Regions from separate parts of the Homo sapiens genome. Here regions 1, 2 and 4 are each linked to region 3. Evidence: fine-mapped expression QTL. A gene starts in region 3. Each other region holds a variant in brackets. All regions are shown on one strand. Distances are from middle to middle.

Region 1 (5,000 bases), 29 kb before region 3:
CAATGTTTATTCCAAGTCGTAATCTCAATGTCTGCATTAAAACAAAACAAGCAAAAAATAAAAACAAAAACAAAAAACTGCCTTGACTTCTAAATATTTTTTATAAAAATTATTAAATGGCACCAAGAAAAACTAAACATAAATATTTCACACCCACCATACTGCCACAAATGTAAAAGACTAGCACTAGTAAAAGTTGATGAGAACACTTCTAACGCTCCTTGGAAACAATTTGGCATTACCTAGCAGAAGTTGTAGATGTGTATGCCTTGTGATCTAGTTATTCAATTTCTAGGTATAATTCCCTTGGGGAAAAAAAAACTCTTATAAATGTGTTTCAGGAGACATTTTCACAGCAGCGTTGTTCAAAACAGCAAAACTCTGGAAACAATCCAAGTGTCCACTAACAGGGGAACAGAGAAATGTATGTACTGTATTCATTAAAAGGCTTAACAAAGATCTCTATAAAAAAGCTTCAGCTTACATGGATGAATCTTACAAACAATGTTGAGTTAAAAAAACAAGTTATAAAGACTACATTTATCGGGGGGTGGGGGGCTAGGGGAGGGATAGCATTAGGAGAAATACCCAGTGTAAATGACGAGTTGATGGGTGCAGCAAACCAACATGGCGCATGTATACCTACGTAACAAACCTGCACGTTGTGCACATGTACCCTAGAACTTAAAGTATAATATAAAAAAAAAAGACTACATTTAATGTGATTCCACAACATAAAGTTAAAACATATGAAACTAAATAATGTATTATTTAGGGATATGTAGATAGGTAGTAAAATCATAAAACAAAGCAAAATAATGCAAAAAATACAAAATTTACTAGTATAGTCCTGCAGATGGGAAGGGAGGGGGATGTGACTGGGAAAGGGCATCCAGCGAGCACCAAAGGGAATAGCAATGAGCTGTTCCTTAAGTTGGGTGGTAGGTACAAAGAGGTGTTTATTATTTCTTACACACATATATTTTCCTATGTGTATGAAATAAAAAAAATTTAAAAAATATGATGCCTATGGTATGACACAAAAAATGTGTTAAGATAAGCTCCTAACTTCAGTTACTCTTTCTGTCCTTCAACAACTGTCTTATTTTGCCATTTTATTGATATATAAAGTATTATGCTACTACCTTCATTGTTTTTTCAGGATGATCATTATCCAATATTTATATTCCCCAGATTTTAAATTGTTAAAAATTTGCCTCAGCTCCAGATTGGCTTGGGGAATGTTTTACAGTGGAGCAAATGAAAACAAGGGCTTAAAAACATAGTGAGTAAAGGGCCGGGTGTGGTGGCTCACGCCTGTAATCCCAGCACTTTGGGAGGCCGAGGCGGGTGGATCACGAGGTCAGGAGATCGGGACCATCCTGGCTAACACAGTGAAACCCCGACTCTACTAAAAATACAAAAAATTAGCCGGGCGCGGTGGCAGGCCCTGTAGTCCCAGCTACATGGGAGGCTGAGGCAGGAGAATGGCGTGAACCAGGGAGGCGGAGCTTGCAGTGAGCCAAGATCATGCCACTGCACTCCAGCCTGGGCGACAGAGCGAGACTCTGTCTCAAAAAAAAAAAAAACATAGTGAGTAAAAAAGACATGATCAGGTGGGTGATCATCCAAATTTTCTAGAGAGTTTTTAGTAACTCTGATTCTTGGGTTCTGCCACTATACTTTTAAATGGGGGCGAGGGCAGGGAGGAGAGACAGTATACAGAAATCTATTTTATGAGCCCAAATGACAAGGGCTTCAAAGCACAGTGAGTCAAAAAAAACAGTGAGTCAAAAAGACACTAGATTCAACACTTCACCTTGCCAGGCTCCAGGCTGACATACGCTCAGCAGCTGTACTTGAACACAGCTTCCACAAAATCCTTCGGAGGTCCTCATTCTTTAAATGCCCAGGATACGTTTTTAAGAGAAGTAATTTGTATGCACACATACATGCACTCACATGTATTTTACTTGGGCCTTCATACTCTACTGATTTTCTAGAGACTCCATCTTATAACTTGGGATGATTACCATGAAGTGATGAAAACCACAAATCTCATCAGTAAAGGGATGCTGGCATGCAGGCAGACACTAGATTCAACACATCACCTTGCCAGACTCTAGGCAGACATCAGGTCAGCAGCTATATTTGAACACAGCTTCTCCAAAATCCTTCCTGGGACCTCACTCTTTCGGCTGAGAAAGTC[T/C]AGTCATGCCACCTATTTTTAAATGGAAGTTTTCGGGAATTTTATGCAGAACAAATTACTGAAAGCTACTCATAGAGATGACATAAAACTTCTAAAAGAAAAATGTAAAAAAACCATGATTTAATGCTTCTGAAAATACTTAAGACAATTTCAAAACCTTTCCTAAGATTTAAACCTAAAAAAAAATCTGAAATAGCCAAGGGGAAAATATATGTACACTCGTACAAAGATACACACACAAAGATACATACACAGATACACACTGCAACACTATAGTAGCTACAAAAGAGTCAAAATTCTTTTAATAGGGGCCTAGTTAAATATATTATGGTATACCCATATGGCTATTAGAAAGAATGAGGTAGATTTGTTTGGACACGGAAAGATGTCTGTGATACATTTTTAAGAGACATAATTCGTATGTACGCATATCACACACATTCATGCTGCTCACATCTATTTTACAAATTAGATTGTTACTAAAAATTTTTAATACAAATTATGCACTTTTATTTACAAGTAAGTTGTCCACTTCCAGAAAGTATAAAAAATATGAAAAGTAACCAAAAGATTAGTAACCATGCTAACAGCAGAGAGCCACTTGACAATTTCTGTAAGAAATCTACTTCCCTGAAGACTGTTTACACTACTGGAAAAATTGATCAAAGAGGAACATAAGGGTTAATGTATAAAGTAACTTTTTTAAAAACTAGGGGAAAATCTTTATTTCAAAATAATCATGTTACATTCTGAACAGTATCTGGATGAGTATTTGGGAGAATACAAAACACAGGACAGGGTCTGGCATTTCAAAAATTTTCATGAACCACTTCTATTTAAACTAATATGCTAACAGGCATAATGCTCTACATTATATTTTCATGAATTCTCAATGTTATTTAGCTTTCAAGGGAGGCTCCCTGAAATTAGATCTATGCCAATGAGAATTTTTCTAAAGCAAAATAAGGAAAATTTTTACCCATCAGAAAGCTGAAAGATGTGGAGAAAAAAAAAAAGTTGGCATACACCTTGCATAATCACAATAAGCCAAAAAAGTTTGTATTTCACACAAGGGTAGTGGGAGAAATACATTGATGAGATGATACAATGGAAGGAGACTGGACCATAGCTTTTTGCTGTCTCACAAATGCAGTTGGAACCAAAGATTGTTACAGCGGGAAAGAACTGTGGATAAATTCTCATGTGAGGACACAGACACCTAAGCAGGGCTAGGACATTCAGAGCACCTCTTTACTTCTTGCACATGATTCTTTCCATGACACCTAGTGCCCTTCTCCATCTAGAGCTACCTCTATATGTCCACGTTCCTTCTCTCTAAGCTCATGATAGACCTCAGGAGAAAGTCAGGTAGGCCTGCTGCTTTTGGCTTTATTATAATGTAACTAGTACATGGACTATTTGGCTATTGTGGGATTCTCCTCATGTTATCAGGGTTCCAGCTTGCATAATCACCTCCTTGGCAACAGAATTTATTGGCATATTTGTTGTCCTTCTTAGTGCAGTGGTTCTAAATGTAGGTGATCATCCAAAATTTTTAGGGACTTTCAAAAACTCAGACTCTTGGGTTCTGACCCTGTAACTCTTAAATGGGGGTAAGAGCAGGGAGGGAAGATGATGTACAGAAATCCGTATTTTTCTTACTGCATTCCAGGTGTAGCTGTGTACCACTAGTTTTTAATACTACTTTTGACTGATTCACCATCTGTGACTTAAGGGTATCAGGGTTTGGATAAGGTGCGGTGGAGGACTGGAGATTTAGAATGAATGATGGAGGAGGGAGGAAAAACAAGGCAGCTACTGCTCTATGGGAGAGACAGATAGGACTGGTTTCCTGTGTATGTGAAGTAGGTGCTGTGATCTCGGTTACACTGGGAAGGCTCTTTTGTCTCAAAGTATCTCTCATCAGCTTTTTATTAATGCCTGAAATTCCATCCTTATGATTTCATTCCTTCAAGTTATGTCATTTGTTAAATAGAAATACCCCTTACTCCTCAGTATTCCACTGTAACCTTTCCCTAATGAAGCATAAATTCATTCACTTCTTTTTAACAATCCACTAAAACAAAGCAGGTTTAGGAGGGCACTGTATTCCTTGATTTGGCAGACAGGAAGGGGATGCCATTCCCCTCCCCCCACACAAAAAAAGGCCATGACTCAATATGATGGCTTTTGCAACTTGCCTCAGGCTAGCCTTAGGGCATTACCTATGGAGCTGCTGCATGCCAGGATGATACTTGACCCAGAGGAGATGTGAATTTGCATAAGGAAGAATCATCTGATGATGCTCTGGGCTATACCTTCGCCCACACTAGCTCTACCATTCTCTGACCTCCTGGTATATTCTTCAGCACCTGCTACAGTTAATTGTTTCTTAATTATTTCATGTGTCTGCATCATGTCTCTCTAGCCAGATACAGGCTCCTTTGAGGTCAGAAAAAACACATGATTTATCTTTCCTCCCTATGAGCACGCAGTGCAGCGCTGAAAAGGTACAAGGTCCTTAGTAAGACCTTCACTGATACACCCTATCAGCAGGCAATATAGGGAGAAACATTTTTATGGCTATCTCTTTATGATCCTCTCATTTCTGAACACTGAACTCGACCTGCCTCTTAAGTTTCTCTTCTCTCCAAGTAACTGTCTTTCCCAAATTAAGAGTCTTTCTTTACTAGTCCATTTTTGTAGGTTTTGCAAAAATGTATTGATATGAAATTAGCATTAATCATTTGGGAAAATATCCTTGGATCCCAAATATGTCTGAGGGAGCTGA
Region 2 (7,928 bases), 280 kb before region 3:
TAGCAGCCATCATGGACATCAAATTTCAGAACATTGTCATTGAGATCCTAATAGAAAACCACGAAAAGGTAATATGTAATTGATCACTTGCAGTGAAGAATGTACCTGGGGGGAAGCTGCATTGGAATTGACCTTCAGAGTTGGCTCAGATTTGCATTGCTAATCACTCTTACACTGTCATGACGATGAAGTTGCTGGTGGTGGTAGTGATGGTGGTGATGATAATGTAAGGTTGGTGGTAAAGGTGTCAACCGTGGTAGTTACAATGACAACAGCCATGGTTATGGTGGTGGCAGTGGTGGGTAAAATTGATTGAGCATTATGTGCCAGGAACTGTGTTAAATACTTTATATGTATATTGTTATTTTATCCTCACAACAATTCAATGAAGGAAGTACTCTTATGAACCTCATTTTGGAAACATGCTTTGCCCATTTCTTACTTGATTGTTTTCTTATGAATTTATGAGTTTTTTAAATTTTAGGGATATTAAACTTTCTTCATTTGTGTTGCAAATATTTTGACCTATAGTTTGTCTTTCAGTTTTATAAATGGTGTTGTATTTTTTGTACCGTTTGTGTGCGCGTGTCTTTATGGTCTGTCTTTTCTTTTGGGGAATTGGGGTTCCTAGTCTTTCTTTCGAAGGTTTTCCTCATCCCCCAATTTGAAGAATATTAACGCAGAGCTGCCCTTGTAAAACTGGGGAGGGGACATAAAGCTGCAGTCCTCTCACCCACTTCATTGCTCTTATGAGCAAATCCATATGAAGCTTCTCAGAACTTGTGCAGGGTTCCCTAAAGCACCATTTGGCAGCAACAAATCTGGAATCTAATAAAAAATGCTGTTTCTCTTAAATAAAAACTTTGCCTAGAATGGCAAATTAATCATGCACAATAAATCCAGAATCTGACCATGCCTCACCACGTACACTGATAATGTTGTAAGCCACCACTACCTCTTGTCTGACTTTTTACAAGAGCCTCCTAATTTGTTTCTTTCTTGTACCCTTGGCCTGACAATTCTGATACCAGCCACCAGAATGAGATTTTTTTTAATGTTAAGCCAGATGGTATCAGTTTTCTCCTAAGAATTATCCAGTGGCTTCCCATTTCATACATTTGCCCACATAGTCTCTGTCCTTTTACTGTTACTACCTGATCTCGTCTCCTGCATCTCTCCTATAGCCATCTTGTTTCTGCCTTGCTGTTTCTTGGACACCACAGGCACATTCCTACTTCAAGGCCTTCGCAGTTGCTGTTCCCAGTGGTTGGAACACTGTTCTTCCATAAAACCACATGGCATACTTCTCCCTTCCTTCAAGTGTACTAAGTGAAGCCTACCTAGATCTCTCTGTTTAAAATTATAATCCCAACTTCCTGCATTCCCTTTTCCTTTTATTCCACTTAGTCTGTTTTCATATCAAAAGACAAAATCACAACAAGTTTAGTTTAAAGATGTTAATTGACTTTTATTTGCGATTCTAGAATTGGGCAACACCTCATTCTGTAAAATAGAATGAATATTCCAGGAGCTGAGCAGAGGAGGTTGGCTTTATAGACAGAAAAGGGCTAAAGAAGAGAACAAAAAGCAGATTAATTGTTTTGAAGTTACTTTCCTTGTAAAAGTTAAAGCAGAGGGGACTTCCTTCAGTGCTGACTAAAACTGGCCTGTTTGGGGATTTGCCTGTTATCTCTCCCCTCATTTATTGGAAGGTCAGACAAACAACTTATTTTTGGCTTGATGGCATAGAACTTCAGCAGAAGTAACTGCATTTTGATTTGGTCTCTTGAGCCTAGGGCAGGAGCTCAGTCCAAACCAGTGGCCTCCTATCAATTTTATTTAACACATAGGACTTCACAAATTATAGGGCATGTAATAAAATTTACTTACTGATTAGATCCATTGGCTTTCTGACCTCTTCAAGCATGTGTGCTTCAGGAAAGCAGGGACGTTGTGTTTTGTTCCTCAGTAGGCACTAGTACATTGGTTTTGGGTGAATGTGACAGCCAGCCTCCAAAATGGCTCCCAGTGATCCTGTCCACCAGTGTTCATTCCCTTGTGTAGCCCCCTCCACCTCTGAATAGAGCTAGCCTATGTGATCAATAGAATATTGCCAAAGTCATGGTATTTGACTTCTGAGAACAGAACATGTACATTACTCTGGGAAGGTCATCCTTCATATTCATAGGGTTTGTCGTCTTTGTGAGAGCAATTGGAATAAGCCATCTTGACTCCTTTTTCACTGTAGCTTCAGGCCTAGCCTGGTATGAAGTAAGGAGATGCTCCCTCAGTCTTTTTTGGAAGTCTGTGGTGTTCAACTCACAGCAATTCTAAGCATCCGTGGCTGTGCTCTGGCCTCTGGCTTTCTGGAGATAACACTTTGTATAAACTCCCTGCCAATAGAACTTAACTTTAACCATCAAATCCAGAGCAATTTTATGTCCTCAGAAGGATGTTGTCGGAGACTTACTCTTTAAAATCCACAATGTTGGCCAGGCACAGTGGTTCACACCCGTAATCCCAGTGTTTTGGGAGGCTAAGGTGGGAGGATCATTTGAAGCCAAGAGTTTGAAACCAGCCTGGGCAAAATAGCAAGACCCCCATCTCTACAAAAAATAAAAATGAAAAATCAGCTGGATATGGTGGCACATGCCTAAAGCCCTAGCTATGGGAGGCTGAGGTGGGAGGATCACTTGAGCCCAGGAGTTCAAGGTTACAGTGAGCTATGATTGCACCACTGCACTCCAACCTGGGTGACAGTGAGATCCTGCATCTAAAATAAATAAATAAAATGTTTTAGAACATAAAACTTCATAGTATTTAAGGTCTTAGTTAATACTTACCAACCATTTCCTTAGACTTGGCTTTAATTTTCTGTAATAGAAACACACACACACACACACAAACACACAATGTCTAGGGGTGACTCTTCTTCTGTCTAGTCTTAGTGTCAAAAGTTAGACAAAATCCTGAAACCCTATTTGAAGAAATGCTTTCCAGCAGCACCTTTTCATGTGAAACAAGTTTGCTTGAAACAAGCCCTACTACAGGGCTAAAGTATATACCCCCCATAGCGACTAGCACAGTATTCTCTCATGTTGTTAACATCTTATATAAGGTATTTACTTTGTGCTTCGGAATAATCATTAGGAGGGCTCTAGGAATAAATGGAACATAGCACTGAAAAGAAGGTGTGGAAACCTAGGCATCTAGCCATTGGAGCCACTCCATTGACGGAGAGACGAAGAGAGCCATGAGATGTTTTAATTTTCTATTGCTATATAGCAAATCATCTCCAAACCTAGTGACTTAAAATAGCAATTATTTTATTACTCTCAATTCTGTGAGTCAGAAATTTGAGAAGGGCTTATGTGTGCCCCTTGTGGTATCAGCTGGGTTGGTTTGACTGGGACTGGAGGGTCCAAGGTGGCCTCACTCCACACAGCTGGGACTTTGGTACTAGGTGTTGACCAGAATGCCTTGATCCTCTGCCACAAGACCCCCCTCTTTCCAGGTGCTGTCCCATCATTCAGGAGTCCAGCCCCAAGTTCCAAGAGGGCAAACACAGAAGCAGCAAGGGCTGTTAAGGCTTAGGCCTGGAGCAAAGTATCATTTCTGTCACATTCTGTTGGCCAAAGCAAGTCACAAGTCCAGCCAGATTCAAGGCAGGGGGAGCTAGATGCCACCTCTGGGTGGGAGGAGCAGTGTGTGCACACAGGCGTGGGAGGATTGTTGACCGTTATCTCTGCAGGGGA[T/A]CTATGGTACCCAGCAAGTTTGCATTTAGTTCCCTTTAGGAATGACTCTGCTTTCTTATCAGTGGTTTGTGCTGAGCATGGGTAGCAACCCAGTGTTTTTATGGAGAGTGCTTTTCCGCCTCCTCTCTGCATTGCCATTTTTTATTCAACCAGGAGCCTCAGGCATCTGGTGGTAGTGACAATTTCAGCCCTTAAATGCCCTTTGTGAGCCTTGGTATGGAGAACCAACTCATAAATATCTAAAATTGGAAAAACATTTTTAAGATTGGCATTAAAGAAAAAGGAAAGAGAAGTGGGTAATTCAGTTTCTTTAACCTGGTAAAACACCTCTTTTTCAATAGAAGGTAAGAGACCTCTGTGTTCTAACTAGCTAAGGCATACAATCTTTTCTCTCTTTGCCTACCTGTCTTTCTGTTGTTTTCCAAGGGTTAACATTAGACATTCAGCTGAGGGTTAATAGTGAACATGATCTCCTTTATTTTGTCACTCACACCCACACATCCTCAAGATAGTACCTGCAAGTCTAGAAACACCCTCTCCCCCCAACCCAGAGAATCCATCTATATCTTCCTCCTGGGAGCCATAGTGATGTGTTTCACACACAACTTGTGTTTGGTCAGATAGAGTGCACTAACGACATGCTTACCCTGTCACAATGGTCCAGAACTTCTGTCCTCCACCTCTCTCACGGACCTGGGAGGGAAGCAGTGTTTGGCACAATTCTGGGAAATAAATATCCTAGATTAGGAGGAGACAGAGAGGAAAACAGCTAGGAGATATGATATTATGTTTGGGGGCTCATGGAAATTTTTCTTTTTCCATGTTGGTAATACATACTGATTGTTTACTCAATTAAAATTAATGAATCCTTTAAATGAATACAGTCCAGAAATAATAATGATGATAGTAATAGCTAACTTTTACTTACAGCTTATTGTTTACAAGATATTGTGCTAAGCAGCTTTATATCCATCATTCAATTTTCACAGCAACCCTATAAAATTGATATTTTTAGCTCTGTTTTTACAAATTATAAGCCTGAAGTGCAGACACTTTAAGAAGCAGCTGATTAGGAGAGGAACAGGGGTTGAACTTAGTACTACTCTCAGAACCCAAGCTATTAAAATCTACTCTAGTTAATCTCTTTTCAGTGCAGTAAGCATTTTATTGAATATCTACCATTAGCCAAAGATAAGTAAAATAGGTCCTTCATTTTTCAAGGCACTCCCATTTTATCAAGATAGAACTAACTATAATACAGTGTGCTAAATGACCTCCAGTAAGATGAATAAAGTGTTATGGCATCACTGAGGATAAATAATTTAATTCTACTGGCATTGGGCTCTGACAGATCAATGGAAGTTTTCTAGGCAGAGAAAGAGTAGAGATAGGAGGGACAGCCACTCAGAGGAGCAGCATTAATCAAGTTGTTTGTATTAAAATGGCATGGTTGTGAAAGACTGTGGGTTGTTAGCAAGTAGTGGGTGATGATGCCAGAGAGTTGGATTCAGTCCATTTGCTAAGGGTCCTGAAAACTATAGGAAAAGGTTTTGAACTGACTTCTGAAAACTGGGAGCTCTCAGAAGTTTCCAAGTGGAGGCTAAAATGATTATGTCAGCACTTTAGAAAGACATCCTTGGAAGCTGAACCAAATAGTACTTTGATTGCTGACATCAAAATCACACATTAAACAAATAACACAATAGAGTTAACCATACTGTTCTAAACTTGCAGCTCAGATAGTGTCACCTTTGACCTACAGGCTTTGCTTGGAGGTTAGAGAGAGATTCTTAATTTGTTTCTTTTTGCCAGACTTCCTAAGGGGAAATACTAGCTCATAGCATCATTTCCTATTAGTGACTCCTTACCGTGGACTCTCCTTGAATTATATGAGAACTAAAGAGTAGATTTGATGGTGTAGCTCTTTTTAGCTACAGTCAAGTTTCTGAGTTGAAAGCTCAGATGGCAAAGATTTTGGCTCTTCCCACGCTATGTTAAGGTAGCAGTCAGTTATGCAAAATTACCATTTCCGTATGAACAGAATCTTTTCTCCAAACTCACACCTTATCACACTGAGTCTTAAAACATAAAGTAGGCAAAAACTTAAGGTTATGGTTAAAGCAACCAATATTTTTATGCTTCCAGCTAAGATTTTCAAACAAAATATTGAATGCTGTCATGGTCCAAGATCTCAAAGCCCAGAAATTATATTTATTACAAGGTTTTCCCTTTACTTAGTGTTTTAAACGCTTACTTGCTAATGACTATGACAATTTTAGATGTTTAAGAAGGACAACCATATCAAGAAAACAAACTGCTTGCTTTTCATAGTTTTGGTTCAACATGAAATTTCAGGCTACTTAGTGTATGTGTGTGTGTGTCCCCTTGCTATTAAATTCCAACACATAATAGTAGGATTGCACTTGTTCTGTAACAATCCATGCTGTGTCTTGTGGCTGTGGCACTCGAAACGGTTTCTGTACATGGAGCAGGATATGTGTGTGTTCATGTGTTATGTACCACAGGCTTTTGCCAGCATTGCCTCTTTTGATGCCTATTAATGTTTGACAAAATAAGTTATAATAATTCCTTCCCTAGTCCATCAGTTAGCTTTGGAAGAGGTGGGAGTGTTGATCATTGAGCTGTTAATTCTCAGAAATCCCCAAAGATCGGTGCCCCTTTTTAATGTGTTAACTTTCAACCTCAGATGTCAAGGAGAGGAGCTAGCAATCATGGATGACCCCCACTTAACACCTGGACTAAGCACTAAATCCTAAGCAACCTCGCATTCCCAATAAAATGCTAGTGACTTACAATGTAGTTAGCTCAATTTGAGTTGATTTGGGCCACCAATCTGCCTTGATCTGCTTTTACCAAAATATTGGTGACATTGAAATCCATTGGACTAGTTCTGGACTTTGTGCACAAAATGTACATTAGTTAATATAGTTGGTTTGGCAACTGACAGGTGTTTAGAAGTCGCATTTTATTTCTTTGATATTTCAAACAGTTGTTGATATGCAAAATTAATAAAAAGGTATGACTGGATGCTTCACTATGTTGAAATAGTCATTGGTACTCTTGCCTGCTCAGGAAGCTAATCTTGTCCTGTGGTCATGGCTTTTGTAATTTGTTCATCAATTTTTATTTTTAAATTTTTTGTTGACTTCCCTTCCAATGGTTCTTGCTTGTACTCTTTTTGTTCCTCTCCTTGTTAGGGTTCAGAAGCAAGCTAGATTTACTTGGGTGTTGAGCTAGAATGCTTCTGCCACAGGGCTATTTTCTTTTTTTAGTGACAAGTGCTGTGTAAGATACTCTTCATTAATGTGATAAGGTAGGTTGTGCATTTGAACACATATATTCCCCCCAATAAATCCCAGATAAACCAATAATTGTTTGAATTGTGAAGCTCCTTTAATATTACTCAAATAAAGGTGGAGATTGTTGTTGTATTTTAATCTATCCATCTTTGTCAGCAAAGAGAACAGGAAATAGAATCTTTCTGGAGATATGGAAAATCACAGCTCTCCATGGATTACCCAAGCTGTCTATATATACCCTCAGTTACTAATGTAATTGGTTCCTTTTGAGAGATTTTTAATACAACTACCCAAACTACTTTCTAAATTGTTGATCCCTCTGCCAAAATGCTGATATCAACAGGACATAGGACTTCCAACTGTCCTTAAAAAACCTCTGCAGTTACAGCCTCTGAATTTGGCTTCTTAACAGTTACAATACATAAGCCCTGCTAAGACTTGCCTGGCTTCCACTGTGAAGGTGCTGGGTTTATGGCTTCTCTGAGAGCACCACGCAGTCCTCGGTCCCATTGTCTGTCATGAGAAGGAGTGAGCTGTGCTCAACTGTTGTAGGTCTACTTTCCTAATGCGTCAAACAAACCAATCCCACATTACTAGGGACCCTGGTACATTTGTGTCTCGAGAAAATGCTCAGTCTCATTTCTCGTATAAACCTTTCTGTTTTGCTTTGTAATCCCCAGGCCTCTGCTGTTGATTTATTGTCTCAGAGCTACTTTGCAGTTGTAGACTAGGAGCTCTTCGTCATGACCTAATTTCCCTCCCATAAAAATCACAGCACATAATAAAGAGTACACCACACACATTACAGGGAGACTCCTAATCCTTTTAAATTGCAGGCGCATGTGACAGATGG
Region 3 (7,438 bases):
CGATTAGTAAGAGGCAGCTTGTTAAATGAACCTTTTAGTTAACTCCGAATCAAATTCTTTGTTACCAGAAGAGTAGTTTCTATCTTCCAGAATAAAAAGCCATGTCCCCTGCTCCCATTCAGCATGCCACATTTAAAAGTACAATGCAATCCATTTGCACAGCTGAGGGCAAAAGTGTATCGAACTAAGCTTGGCTATTCATCCTGCCGCTCACTGAACGTGTAGCTTTGTTAATCACAGACATTATAATTCATTACATCTGATTATTCTGAAGGTTCAAGTTGATGTCAAAGTATTTAATTTCAAAAAAAGGAAGTGTGATCATTAAAATTCCTACCTCTTTTCAATCACGGCTGTTTGCTTTTCTGAGAACCAATACATATAACATTTGATAAATACTATGCTAGAATTCTCAATCCCTAATTACTTCCAAATTTCCCTCCTACCAGCTAGTCACACATCCAAACCTTTGAGTACAACCAACTGGTGAACCATGCACGTTTTCTTTGAAAAATAAACAATGCTGATCTGCTTATCTTCCGACAGGCTGGGAAAAGGCTTTTTAACCCATACTTCTGACTGGATGTGCCTACCTCCAAATTTTGGATATATGAAATGAGATACACTTTATATAGGCCAACTAAAATTTAGATTTTAAAGAGCAGAAGAGAAGGTGTAGTAGTTTCTCACTACGTTGTTAGCTTACATAACTTAAATATAGCTGACCCTTATCATAACTCACAAAAACATCTAGATTAAGCTACATTTGTTTACATTGCTTGAGATCCTCAATATGAAATGCTATTACATCTCTAAGTTCTTTCCTTTCCAAACAAATATCGAAGTACTGAAAAATGGAAAAACACAGAACCGTAAAATCACATTCATATAAATTCAGGTACAACTGTATCCAGTAAAATGTTCAAAATAATTTTCTCTGCCTTCACCTATCCAAACCTTCACCTATCCCAATTCTCAGCCTATTCTCAAGAGAGTAAGACTGTTAGTATATCGTTAATCAGGGTGTTTTAAGAGATGGGCTAAGACGGAGAAGCGCATTTGGGACACTATAGTCAAATCCCGTCCAATAAAAGGTAACTTTTCCTATGCGATGACGTTAGGCAGCATAAATGTCACTGGCCCTCACTGAAAAGTGAATATGAAGGTAGAGAGAGGGGTGTGGACTTGCCACTACAAATCTTGAGGGTAAACTGCTTATCTCCCCACCTCTCTGCCCCGTTTATCTGAGGCGATAACGATCTCTAAACACGAGGTATCGAATGGAGCCCAATGAATTTCCATGCCGCTTTTTTGACAGCTGCCTTCAAACCCGAAACCAAAACAATATTTCCTAAAACGAAAACGCTCCCTCAAGCGACATTATCCCCCAGTTTAAGTTGCAAATAACCCAGCCACATTAATTGGCCCTAATGAACCATGCCAGAGGGTCTTAAGTGGTATTACAAGGTTGCAATTATCAAGTCTGCAACCCCAAACGTCAAACTAGCACTTGTAAAAATCGCAGCACAAAACCATTACGGTTACAGGGGGTCTTTTTCTAAAAGGGGCCACTTAGAAACCTCAGGCGCGAATTAACAACAAACGCTAAAGAGCAAGCCCTTGCGGGGCGGGGGTGGAGAAGAGAAAAAAGTGCGAGGTTAAAAGAGAAGTACGTCCAGACCTGTTGAGTTCTCTCTCCGACACGCCCACTTCTAACAGATAACGCCGGCCCCGGCCGCAGTCTCCAAGTTGCGGGCTGTCAGCCCCCCGCGTGTGCACCCTCACGCGCCCCGCACGCCCTCCTCAAGCCAGGCGCCGCCGGGGCCTCCCCGGAGCCCGGGCTCGCGCTCGGGCGCGCCGGGGTGGCGTGCAAATATTCGGGCGAGTAAAATTCAGACGCGGCTTAGCGTTCACCACGAAAACGGGTGTCGGGCGACCCCCTTGGAGGGAAAGGGGACACTAGGGGGAGAAAAGAGGCCAGGATTCCCGCGAGGAATGAGAGGCTCGAAGCCCCCGGCAGTTCGACAGGGCTCCGCTCGCCGTCCGAGGTCAGGTTCCTCCCCCTCGGCCCGGCCAGGGGACGCCTGCGGAGGGAGAGGAAGAGGCCAGCGCTGTCACCCGCGCGCTGCCCTTTCGTCACCGTCGCCCGGCCCTTGCCAGCCCCCCACCCCCACTCCCCGAGGCTAATAAAAGTTTGTAGGCTCCCGCGGCGGCCCCCGAGTTGTCTCCGGTCCCAGCGGCACCTCGGGGGAGCGAGCGCGCCCCGGCCCCCTCCCGCCTCGCTTCTTACCTCTGGCAGAGGAGCCGCTCGCCCGCCACCGTCCGCAGTTCCCGCCGCAGCCGAGATAAACAACTTAGCTTGTGAACGCAGAAGGAGCAGGAGGGAAATATATTTTTTTTTTCTAAAAAAAGGAAGTAAACAGCCGCCCCTTTCTCCATGGGTGGGGGGAGAGCCCCTATTTAAGAAAGTCTCCCATTGCCCAGCTGACAAGCCAGCCCTCCGCCCCGCGCCGGGCTCCGCGGGTCGAGGTTCCGGGCGCGCGTGCCCCGTCCCGGTCCCAGCTGCTTCGGCCGCTCCGGCTGCGGCGTCTCCTTCCACCCACAGAATCCGTCCCCGACGGGCAGGCGGTGACTCGGGCTCCCGTCACAGACACGAGCTCGCAAAATGGAGGAGGCGGCGGCGGAGGGAAGAGAGCGCGGACACGCGAAAGGGCAGCCCGGCCTGGGCGAGCGAGCGGGACCGAGCGGGGAGCGGGTGGAGGCGGCGCCACGGCGCGCACACACTCGCACACACGCGCTCCCACTCCACCCCCGGCCGCTCCCCGCCCGAGGGGCCGCGCGGCGGCCGCGGGGAACGATGCAACCTGTTGGTGACGCTTGGCAACTGCAGGGGCGCCCGCGGTCCCTGCCCCCACGCCCTCCGCGCGGGCCCCGCCACCCCGGCCCCGACGGCGCCTGCACGCCCGCGTCCCCTGGCGTGGCCGCCCCGCCCGGTGCGCCGCGCTTCGCCCCCCGCCCCCAACTCCCCAGGAAAAAGGGTGGCGGCGGCAGCGGCGGGGGCCGACCTGGTCTCTCTGGGGCGGCGTTAAGAGGGCCACCGAGTTTCTCCAGTTTCTTTTCTCGCTACCTCCTTCCCGCCCCCGCCCAGCTCCGCGGCTCCAGACCCACTCGGGAGCTCGCTCTGCCCCTTGGCGGCAAGCGCCGCCAGTGCCCCTGCGGGTGACAGCGGGCGGGCCACAAGAGCCGGGGCGCCTCCCGCGGCTGAGCTGCGTGAGTGGCCCGCGCCGCCGCCGCCGGGCCGAGTTGCGTGAAGTGTGTCACTTCGAAAGGGGCTACGGGGTTGCACGGAAACGGTGCCGCAGCGTCTCGGCCGCGCTCGGGGCCGGGCGGCCTGACACGCCCTCTGGGGAGGCTTCAGGGAAGGGACGGGATAGCGGGGGTCGGCGCATACGTACTTTGGGCCCGGGGGGAGTCGCGTGCCGGCAGGTCCCCCACCACCGCATCATCTGGGCGGCCGGGTCTTCAGCTGCCGCCGCCGCGCTCTCGCACTGGGAGAGAAGTTGCAAAGCAGAACCCACCCTCCCCCGCGCCCCGACCGTCCCCCACCCTCTTCCCCGAGTCTGCGAGGCGGCGGCGGCGGCAGAAGGAGGCGCCGCCTGCCAAGTTCAACCCCCACCCCTCCCGCCCAATGTGCTCACACTCGAAGGAAGTTGCACGCCAAATGCAAAACCTCCAGCGAGCTGGATTTCTTTGCACTTTTTTTTTATTATTATGATTAAGGAAAGCAGGGGGCGGCAGGCTTAAAAGCAAGTTGCAGGCGAAATAGTAAGTTGCTGGCGAAATATAGCCCCCCTTCCGAAACTCCTGACCTCTTCTTCCACCCCGGCCAGGGCCCGCGTCCAAGTTCCCGGTGCAGGCCCCACCCCCGAATCTTGACATTTGCTGCCCTCGACTCTGTGCGTTGCTCACCCTATCACGTTCATAGGACCCCTGCCCCTACAAATAAAACAAAATACAGGCAGCTTTAAAATGCCAGCGTTCAACTCCCTACAGATGTTCCTGTTAGGAGCTTCCCCCTCAGTCCAAGGGGAAGGGAACTCGTGGTCCGTCCTGAGAAAGGAGAGGGCCGTGGGGCGAGGGGTGCCCGTGCGGGAAGCCCCCGCCCCAGCTCCCTTCCCCAGCTCGCCGCGTCGGGAAGGCTTGGACGATGCCGGGACCGAGCCTCCTACCTTGTGCGGCACAGATTATGATTTTTGTGACTCTGGGAAAGGTTGTGCTGTGTGGGTTTAGGGTTTGGGGAGGTAACTTTTGCGCCCCCACAGGTGACATCGCTTGCCAGCTCCTGACACGGGCGGGGGCTGCCGCAGCTCCACCTAATCCTGCTCGGGCGCTCGGCCACAGCCACTCTCTCACCTCCCGCCGCGCTCAGACTGACGGCGGCTCCCCCTGCTCTGACATCTTGAAGACGATTGGGGAAGCGCGTCCCGGAAGCCGCCCGCCGCCATCTTGGTAGGGTACAGTGTCGCCAGCCCGTCCCCGCGGCCACCATCTTGGCAAAGGTTCGCGATCGCGGGTAGCCTAAGCCGTCCTTCCTTGGTTCTCAAGGGTAAACGGTTCCCTGTGCATTGTCTGATGTGAAAGGAAAGAAGTAGGCTTTCAGCAAGCCTCTTGTCCGGAGACGATCTACGGGGGCCGCCTCCAGAGGATTCTGGAGCCGCCATCTTGGCAAAGGAAGAGATACTCGCCACCTCGGAAAAGAAGAGGGAACCAACCGTATGCCAACGTAGAACCCTCAGCCAGAAGAATTTTTATGAAGGGCGCTGAGCAACTCCATGTTAACAAAACCCCCTTCTGGACCCAGAAGGCAGACTCCGCTTCTCCTGTCCCTTGGCACAAGTCAACTAGAAGGAGGCCCTTGCTTTGGATGCTCATCTGTGAGGCTATGAGAACACTGCTTGACCTAGTTGCCCGTTTTTCCAATTTCTGAGCCTCAAGCACTAGAATGAGATGTCTTTCGTTAATTTGGCCCCTAAACTACCAACAGTTTCATGGGAAACAAATCAAGACCCAACCCTACAATAATGTTTTACACGTTTTAAAAGTGAGTTAAATAGCCCATGCTAATAATTATCCTTGTACACTGCTTAAAATGATTAAGAATTCTATTTATATATACATGTATGTATACATATGTATACACATATATATTATATACATATATATGTATATAATTAAGGGGACAATACAGTTGTCTAATAGAACACATCTCCCCATGCCATTAGCCTGTCTCACTGCTGAATCTCTGCTCTAAGAATCCACCTCATCGCTCATACATGCTCAAATCCTTAGTGGTAGGTACTCTGCTTAAATAATTTATGATTTCACAAGAGTTCCCAATTATTCTCCCTTCATTTTTTTTTCTCTGCAGATCTTAATGGGGAAGAATACGTAGTTTTAAATATGCCATTGAAAACGTTTTTAATTGAGCAAAAAAAAAAAAAAACTTATCCTAATTTCTCTCTTCAGCAATCTAAATGTGCCTGTTAATTTTTTAATTTGATAGCAAAAAAATTCTCATTCTTTAGTCTTTCACATTCATTTGGAAGCATGCATGAACTATAAGTTAACCCCTCTTTTTCAGAGTAATACAAATAGTTATGATTTGTGGCTAACATTTATTGATCCCCACTCTTCTGCTGCCCACTTTTGCTGACAACAATTAAATGAGATAGGTATTGTTATTCGATTTTTCAATATGAGGACAACAGGCTTACAGAGGTTGATGCTTGTCTAAGTTCACATGGCTCCTATGCATTAAGAGAGGAATTAGACAATATTAAAGTGGTTTTCCTCACTGATCTCAATCATTAACATGAAGTAGTATATCAATTCTGATAGACTACTTACAATATGTGCTTACGGAATTTAATTGAAGAGATGAACTCCAGTGTGCCAGAAAGGACGTGAGATTTAGCATTATAATAATAACACAATTCTAACGAAAGTCAACATTTATTGCGCATCTGCTGTCTGACAGACACTATTGAAAGTGTTTTATGCACAGTATCCTAAGTCTTTAGGTATGGCATTTACTAATCTGTAACCCTGGGAACTTATAATTACTACAAGAAATAGGATGAATCCCTATCTGAGTGGGAAGGTATTTGATTGTCTTAGAAGCAGAGGTGGAAATGAAGGTGATGTATTCAGACTCAGTCAAGGCAAGGACCTGATCTATCTTGTCATAGCTTTATGTCCCACTCCTGGAACACAGCCCACTACATAGCAGGCACCCAACAAATACATTACAGGGTTATAATAACATTGAGTCAACTAGTTAACTAGATGTAAAATCACTTTTACTGGGTTATTGTTGTGGCCAAATGGGTTAATAAAAAGTGTACAGATAACCCTCAAGATCCTCATTTTTATTGTTTTGTGTTTAAACATCTGAGTGCTCCCCCCACTTTTTTTTAAAATAAACTAGATTAGATTCTTGATTGTATGTTCTTATAGTATTCTGCATACTTTGTTAGCACATTACAATGATAGTTCATTATTTGTGCCCTCATTTGTTATTTCTCTGTATCACCCACCAGAACATAAGTTCTGCAAAGGCAGGGACTGTGTCTGTTTGTTCACCCCTGTATCACTAGTGCATAGTTGGTGCTCAGTGGGTGTTGGTTAAATGAATGAATGAAGATAATATATGGTCTTAGAGACTATGTCCTAAGGCCAATAAAACCTTAAGCCTGACTAATAACCAAACCACTTGATACATTGATTTCAGAAACTGATATATTACCCAAGTGAGTTCTCCCATTCTCTTCATGTTTTGTCATCTCCATTCCCACTAAAATAATCCAAGCTGTACTGCCAGATTACCCCTCCAAAACATCAACTAAATCAGGCTGTGCTCCTTCTCAAGTATATACAATAACTCTTGATTCTAGTGCTACACAGATCCCAACTCCCAGTATGGTATTTAAGATCATCACCTTTACCTACCCCTTTGTAGAAAGTGAAGCCTTCTAGTGGATGTGATTGAACTGGAGTTTAATTTAAAAATTAGTTAAAAGAAGGAAATAATTTTAAGAAAGATAACTTGCAAACTTTAAACTTTTGAAACTTTTGAAACCTAAAACCTGTGATTGAACATTTATTTTCTAATCTTTTGATGAAGGTCTAAAGCTTTTATGAGCCCACTGACTGGAGTTCCATGTCTTCTTTAGTGTGTGTATAAACTATACCTGTAATGCATTGATATAGTGTAGCAGTTAAAAGCCAGACTATAAAGGCCAAATACAGTCTCCACCACTAAAAGGAATGTAACCTTGGGCAGGCTAACTCTCTGTGCCTTTTTCCATCATCTGTAAAATGGGGATAATAATAGTACTGATTTATAAAGATTAAACCAGTTTGATATATGTGAAGTGCT
Region 4 (7,819 bases), 130 kb before region 3:
CTAGGAAACAGGAAGCCTAAATAAGAGGGAGGATGGGGTTATTTCACCAGAAAGAAAGTGCTATGAAGTTACCAATACTGTTAAGAACGACTTAAGTTAAAAGAGATTAGTTGAAATTCTAAAAAAAAAAAAAAAAAAAAAAAATCACCTTATGTAAAAGCCTCAGTATTTTCAACTTTTTTTCTACACCCAAAGTCTGGCTCTTTACCTGCAAAACTAGGAGCAAATTTTAACTTGCACTATAGTTCTCATTTATAAACAACTTTCTTCCTTGGTTTGACTGTACCCTATATGCTCCATATCACTTGAAGAAATGTTTGATTTTTCTGTGGGCATTAGTGAGACAGGCTCCCTGTTGTATATTAGACAAACCAAAGGGCATTCTGTAATCTGTGGGCAACTAGTATTTTCCACCATCAACCACCCCAGGGTACAGGACACGTTTTTAAGAGAAGGAAATACAATAGTGCCCGCCTTATCTGCGGTTTCACTTTCCGTGGTCTCAGTTACCCTCAGTATAGTACGATTTTTTGAGAGCTCACATTCACATAACTTTTATTACAGTATATTGTTGTAATTGAGTTATTGTTAATCTCTTGCTGCATCTAATTTGTAAATTAACTTTATCATAGGTATGTAATATAGGAAAAAACATGCAGTTCAGTACTATCTATGTTTCAGGCATCCATTGGGAGTCTTGGAACATATCCTCCGTAGATAAGCGGGGACTAATGTATCATTGTTAAATTTCTAAGTCAAAATTGATACGGTAGCAAAAGGGATTAGATTAAATGAGGACATGTCAAAAGGCCAGACACATAATGATCAATATGGGTTCATTCGCCCTAGTTAGCTCATATTAGTAATTTCTCAATAGTGGTTTTTAAAACTATGGATTCTGGAGCTAGCTTTGTGACTGTAGGCAAGTTACTCAATTCTTTAAGCCACAGTTTCCTGATATAAATGCAATGAGGATAATAGCACTGCTTTACAGTAGTACTTTAGAGGGGTACTATGATTAAATGAAATAATATATTGAATTATCATTGTGCGTGGCACATAGTAAGTGCTCAGTAAAGCATTAGTTTAATTTAAAACAGAAAAACATAACCAGTTCCCTGAGAGGCTCATAGGCCAGAGACATGCTCTTTGACATCTGATAGATGAATGGCCTCATTAGAGGCTTTCCATTCAAATTTCAATAACATGGGAGCTAGGGGCTATGAATCAGTGCTTAAATTCTGAGCCTGTTTACTTTCTTACAGAGTTTACTTCCTTATAAAATGGAAACGAGAATAATCTGCCTCATTATTTTCATGTCATTAATTCATTCAGTGAGGCTTGTTAAAAATGTATGTGAAGGTGTTCTACAGAAATGTAAGGTTACTACTTAAAGTGAATGGTACAGCCATAATGTGTATACACATTGATGCCGTATCTGGTATCTCTGCATTATACCTGAAGACACTGGGAAAGGTTTGTTATACACTTTTCCAATCACATACTCTGATTGAGGGTAGCAATAGTATTTTTCTTATTCACATTGTATCTTCAATATTATATAGTAGGCAGGTAGCAAATACTTGGTGCACATGATGATGGATAAGGCAAATTTGGCTTTTAAATCACAATGCTTTTTTTCTTAGTGATGGAGATCTCTTGTGGAAAAAAAGGTACTCAGAGAAGTTTGTTAGGTCATCCAGTTCCTGGATATGGCCTGAACATCAAATGTTTTGGAAAATACCGAATGGATTGTATAGAATAGCTGACTTCCACTACCCTGCCCGACCTTTCTATTCTATGTGCAATACTGCTATGATATTTATATTAAATGTTTATTCCTTTTCTTGAAGAGTTGATTTTAAAATAAGCTAAGAATTTTGACTAGATAACATTAGCTTACATAAAATGTCATCTTTTGTGATAAAGACATACATTTGAAGCAGCCTCAGGAGTGAATTTCTCCTTCCCTTAGTACCCTTTGCAGTAATTGGCACACAACCATTTGAGGCATGGATGGGATAATCTTCAGGTCTTTGGCACCAGGGTTAAGCTTATTTTGAATCTATGCCATATTAGCAGGCGAACATTGCCACACTGACATTTAAATGCCCACCATATTATCTTAAGGTTCCTGAAGCAGGGGTAACTCTACTTTCAGTAAACAAAAATCAGATTGGACAATCGGAACTGTACAAGTTCTACAAAAGCATGTTGGAGTCACATAATGAAAAAGCAGATTTTTTTATTATGATGTTTCTCCATATTTGGCATTGCTGTAAATGGCTAACATTTACTGCCAATTCGGTACAAATGTGTGGTTTGGTAATACCAGAACAGCAAATTTAAATGAAAAAATAAAAGTTAAACATTTCCACACAAGGTTTTACAGTCTGACATTTCACTGCGTAGGTAAAAAGACACTTTTTTTTTAACTACAGATTATTATTCAGCATGAATAAAAAACTACAACTTTTATTTTTAAACAGGAGTCACTGGTTTTAATTTTTACACATTTTAAAATTACTGTGATAAAAAATAATGAAAAAGCTTCTTAATAATGCCATACACAGTATAATATAGATTTGTCCCCATTATATAGCATTTAATATACAAAATAGAATATTGACACACTTGAATCTATATGTAGTTAAGCAAGTTATTTGAGGAGGGTATTTTCATACAGCCTTTCATCAGAAAATAAAATCCTTTCAGACATTTTCTAGAGAGAAGCAAATCCTTTCCTGAAAACCTGGTCACTAATCCTGGGTGGACCAGGTTGCTTGAAAATAGTCTGGGAAATTACGAAACTCCACCCAAAGGGTTTAAAGTGTCCTCCTTACACTTTTATTTCCCTTCTGACACTAAAACCAGACACACACACACAAAAACACATTCACCTACAGCTACAGTCAGGGAGTGACCAGCCAAGATGGAAATCTCACTGAAGGCTACCATGGTTCTGGAAGTTTGACAGATCAATGTATTGTATAACAATATTTTTCATTCCATGGTGATGTAGTTTTCAGGGTTTTTAAAAGGGAACTAAAATTATGAGACTTAGGTGAAACTGGAATTGCTCCCTGCCTCTGAATTCTGAAGGGAGCGTGGCTTTCCTTCATGGCATGCCCAGAGCTCATCCCATGCTAATTATCCAGCACTTCATAGACACAAATCATGTTAGTTTTCCTTTTGGGGTGGCCAAGGTTTCCTCCCATAGTTTTAGGCATTTGGATATATATACCCCAAAAGTGTTATGTCCTAAGTGCCTCAGTTCTGCTTGTATAGTATCCCACAGAATACCTACAAACACTAAAAATACTTTTCAGGATTTGTTGTGAGTAACCAACTCTCACTGAAGTTACTACAAACTTCAACAGTTTGGGTTGGGATGGCCAGATAACACATACATAGGAAATAAATCTGCTTTCAAACAGCACCACCATATAGCACTTAAATCCACAATTAAACATAATTAAGATGACTTTCTTTTCCCCCACGTATCCTAAAAGGGCACAGCTTCTTTTCCCATTTAATGAAAAGCCTCCTATAGTTGTCGATGAGCATCAGTTGACTTATTATTGACAACGAAGTGCACATAATCTTCTTTTTCTCATTGAGTTCTATTTTTTGAGCGCCAAGATTGTTGGGATGAAAATCAGATTAATGTGTGAGATGTGCTTTCTGGTTTTAACCACATAACATTCTATAAAGGAATGATAATCTACGTTTTAGAAGCTCTTTTTGAAACTTAACACTGTCATTGATAAGAATATTCAAGCAGTTTTCTTAGGCACCAAAAATTTATCCAGCCGGGTTACACACCATCTTAAAATATTACATTCCCTTTTAGAGAGCATTCAAAAAGCAAATGATTGTTTTTTTATTAAATAATTTCTCCAAAATACTGAAAATAACAAATAACATTCAAAAAGCATTCAAAGAAAACAAAAACATGTCCTCATTTTATTTGGAAATAAACTCTTGTTGTAGGATAGAAAGGAATTAGTGTATTATTGGCAACCTATGAGATTCTGCACTATTTACATATTGCTGGTACCTCTATGCAAACTATTGCCAAACTTCTGAAGCTTCTGTTGTCATTCAACTGCTGGGGGAGGGCTGTATGTGAAAGTAACCCGCTATTAGATGGTGCCTTTAAGGATGTAAGCACCACCTTCCTGTCTCCTGTTTACATACTTTACATACTTTAGTGCAAGGGGAGATTGAGTAAACTAAACCTGCGCTGACAGACTCACTGTTGGAATGAGAAGGGTGGTCAGAATGGGAGGCAGAGGATAACTTCCTCTGTAATCTCACTGGGTCAGAGCCTCAGCAACCTTCACTGCACACAGGACCAGTCTCCATCTCCCTCTTCCCCTAGAGCAAACTGTTTGGTTTCTGAGACCATCGCTGCCTGTATGAATGCATGTACAAACTATAAATCATATAGGTTATCCATCAGCATTTCTTTGACCCCTACAAAAAATATATAACATGTCATGATAAAACAATCTCATCTAAAAATCATTCTTATTTTACACTATACAAGCTATTTTACAATCATTTTAATAAATTGCATGTAAAGCTGCAGTAGCCCTTCCCTTCCCAGATTAGTGAATACCAATATGATATATATCTGAAACTATAACTAAATATAAAAATATATTAGAAGTTCCATATTTTTAATATTAGATTTTCAGTTTTCTATTACACAAATAATTTGGCCACCTTGAATAGAAATCAAATTTCTTGTGGCTTAGTAAATATGTTAAGTTTTGAGTTTACAGAAAGTTGGTAAGGTGCACACAGAAAGGGCTACTACAGCTTCTATTTTGTTTAAAATAATTTTCAACAGTGAAGAAATTCACAGGACTTGTGTTAAACTCTATGGCACACATTAGGGATGTGTAGTTTTACAAACATGGATGTCTGACATACAGTTCTAAATCACAAAAATCAGTAGCTGAGCTTTCCTGTACCATCAGGAAAGATTAACCAATTGGTGACAGATGGGAATGTGAAAATGGGTGTCTAGCCATTTTTGCCATATTAGAGATTTAGTTTTTGGGTAAAGTTTAGTGAGAGGAATTACTTTGTCTGATTAAAAGTCTCTCAGCTGTGTTACAGCTGGTTATCTGGAATCACAACTTTTAAGAAGTTATACAAACTACTTCAAAAGGTCCTGAAAGACAAATAGTTTACCAGCTTTCTTGCCATATAGCCATTGCAAAAATAGGGCGTTAGGTACAGACAGGGCCTCTTGGTAGTTATTTTTTAAATTAGTCTTTTGCAACCATCATCCACAGTTTACCCAGCAGGTCACTGGACTAGGTGCTCTATACCAGTTAGGACTGTTAATTTGCACAACCTATATAATTCTCCACTGAAGCAGATATATACAAAATATGAG[C/CTT]TTTTTTTTTTTTTTTTTTGACAAGAATACTGGAGATTTGAGTCAATTTTTGTGGTCTTCTGATAGCTAAGTGCCATCAGGTTAGAAGCACCAACCCATTTTCACACAGATGATTGATTAATGTTTAGAGTTTATTTGGGAAAGCTACGAACTAGCTGCCCATCTTAAACAGCTGTACAATAACTTGAATAAAAAATTATGTAAGAAAAAATGAGCAAGCGTAGTTCACTAAATATAAAGGAAATTGTTAAAACCAGACAGTAATAGCTATAAAAGGCACAACTTCCCTTTTCTGATATACACTTGTAAACTTTTTTTCAGGTTTCCATGCATAAATCAAAAATGCTATCCTAACTATACAGGGGGGGGATACACCAACAGAAAGTCTAGAAAATTTCATCCAGCCAACTGTGAAAAAAAGTATGAAGAGAAAGTTCATCACACAGACTTTGGGCACTGGTGGTTTAGGTGCCATCCTTCTTTGACTGTGGAGATTACGTCCACATATTAAGGTTTCTAATTTCTGGGATATATTAACTAATAAATTTCACCATCTACTCTCCCATCACTGAAAAGTGATGACGACTCAACTGCTTCTGTTGCCAAGTCTTGGCCCTCTATAAACCACATGTAGTGCGTATTTAAAACAAAACAACAGATGAAAACAATAAAAAATAAAACAACAAAACCTCTACAGGACAAACTGATAGTTTATACAATAAAAGCTATTAATTCGACTTTCTTTAAGGCAACCATTCTTATTAAGGCAGTCACTTTTGATGAAACAGAAGTTTTTTGATATTTCCATTTGAATATTTTGGTATCTGATTGGTGATGATTTCAGCTAACATCTCGGGGAATTCAATACTCATGGTCTTATCCAAAAATGTTTGGAAGCAATAGTTAAGGAGATTTTCAACCACCTGCAAGAGAAGATATGGTAATGATCAGGCTTCCAAATTGGTCAGTGGGAACATCTCATGTTTGTTGTCCTCTATTTTGAAAAAATTATCTGGCCTAGAATATACCAATCTCACTGGAATTCCCCAGATGAAAAATAAGCACTTCCGTACAAAACACATTTTATATTTCTTTGATTGTATGTAGAATTATATAGAATTATTTCATGAATCACTGTAGTACCATAATATATGAAGGGTGCATTATTCTAATTTAATGGATTAATCATACTTTTTAAAAACAGTATTACTAAATTCTGTAATAACATGGTGATTTTATATACACATGACTAGGTGAAAGGATATTTCATAATTGGCCTTAGGAAAAATGTCTACAAAACTGAAGTTCATAAGTTGAACTCAAGCTATCACCAACATCCACAAACTGGGGGCGGGGGTGGGGGCGCTGCTGGTATATAATTATATTCACTAATCAAAACATACTTTGTCCCAGAAAACTCTTATATTTGGCTTTATGTTTGACACTTACTTCATGCATAGAATCCAAGAGTTTTGTCAGTTGATAAAACCGCTGCCAGTTCTGGCTGGAGTTTCCTTCCCTCTTGACAATGGCTTTTCCTAGCTCTTTGATGTAGGTCATTCTAATTTCATCAAATAGCTCTTGGCTCTTCAGACCGTCCTTAGGAACTAAAAGGTTAAGATGAAGTCAGTTAAAGGATTTTCTTTTTCTTTTCTTTTCTTTTTTTTTTTTTTTTGAGATAGATAGGGTCTCACTGTGTCATCCAGGCTGGAGTGCAGTGGCATAATCATAGCTCACTGGAGCCTTGACCTCCTTGGCTCAAGTGATCCTCCCACCTCAGCCTCCTGAGTAGCTAGGACTGTAGGCACAAGCCACCATGTCTGAGTGGCATAATCATAGCTCACTGGAGCCTTGACCTCCTTGGCTCAAGTGATCCTCCCACCTCAGCCTCCTGAGTAGCTAGGACACAAGCCACTGTGTCTGGCTAAATTTTTTTGTAGAGACAGGATCTCCCTATGTTGCCCAGGCTGGTCTTAAACTCCTGGGCTCAAGCAATCCTCCTGCCTCGGCCTCCCAAAGTGCCAGGATTACAGGTGTGAGCCACCATTCCCAGCCAGATTTCTTGCTATAACTTTTTATACATGCAAGATGGGCATTTAACATTGTTTATGTACTCTTACTGCACTCTAAAATATAAGCATTTTCTTAGGATTATTAATTAAACTACAGCCAAGAGAAAATGCAGGATAACAAAGAATTGGAGGACTTAACCTTGAGTAAATCACTTGATTTCTCATCTATAAAATGGAAGTGGTGATGATACACCTTCTCCTCCTTAGCTCACAAAGCTATTTGGAGGACCAAATGAAATAATACAGTGATTTTTAGTTAACTTTGTCTGCCATTCTGCACTTGAGTTTAATTCTAGTACTGAGATAGATAGAAGGCTTCAACAACAGTGTTTAT

What was found. PIP is the estimated chance that this variant, and not a neighbour inherited with it, causes the effect.
Region 1: its variant is the best candidate, but not a certain one, in a credible set for the expression of NR3C1 in whole blood (INTERVAL, PIP 0.80).
Region 2: its variant is the best candidate, but not a certain one, in a credible set for the expression of NR3C1 in whole blood (TOPMed, PIP 0.60).
Region 4: its variant is the best candidate, but not a certain one, in a credible set for the expression of NR3C1 in whole blood (INTERVAL, PIP 0.89).

What each region holds. Positions count from the first base shown.
Region 1 is chr5:143,372,916-143,377,915 of GRCh38, forward strand. All of the region lies in intron 2 of NR3C1 (nuclear receptor subfamily 3 group C member 1), which reads right to left. Among named protein-coding and RNA genes, the nearest start is that of NR3C1, 28 kb to the right of the region's middle. The variant T/C (reference allele first, on the strand shown) is at 2,210.
Region 2 is chr5:143,121,080-143,129,007 of GRCh38, forward strand. ARHGAP26 (Rho GTPase activating protein 26) reads left to right here. Exons shown (of 23, transcript NM_001135608.3): 18 at 1-68. It overlaps LOC124901098 (a long non-coding RNA gene), which reads right to left and starts at 4,493. Exons shown (of 2, transcript XR_007058980.1): 1 at 1,891-4,493; 2 at 1,448-1,568. The variant T/A (reference allele first, on the strand shown) is at 3,756.
Region 3 is chr5:143,400,921-143,408,358 of GRCh38, forward strand. NR3C1 (nuclear receptor subfamily 3 group C member 1) reads right to left here and starts at 2,766. Exons shown (of 9, transcript NM_000176.3): 1 at 2,291-2,766. LOC128966704 reads right to left here. Exons shown (of 2, transcript XM_054328421.1): 1 at 4,414-7,438; 2 at 3,746-3,996. The coding sequence starts at 4,721. The coding sequence ends at 3,966. RefSeq lists silencers at 1,762-1,861, 2,072-2,151, 2,392-3,661 and enhancers at 3,667-4,434, 3,712-3,781, 3,822-3,961, 4,362-4,601, 4,435-5,201 and 1 more.
Region 4 is chr5:143,275,706-143,283,524 of GRCh38, forward strand. NR3C1 (nuclear receptor subfamily 3 group C member 1) reads right to left here. Exons shown (of 9, transcript NM_000176.3): 8 at 6,863-7,020; 9 at 2,229-6,336. The coding sequence ends at 6,184. Among named protein-coding and RNA genes, the nearest start is that of ARHGAP26-IT1, 87 kb to the left of the region's middle. The variant C/CTT (reference allele first, on the strand shown) is at 5,414.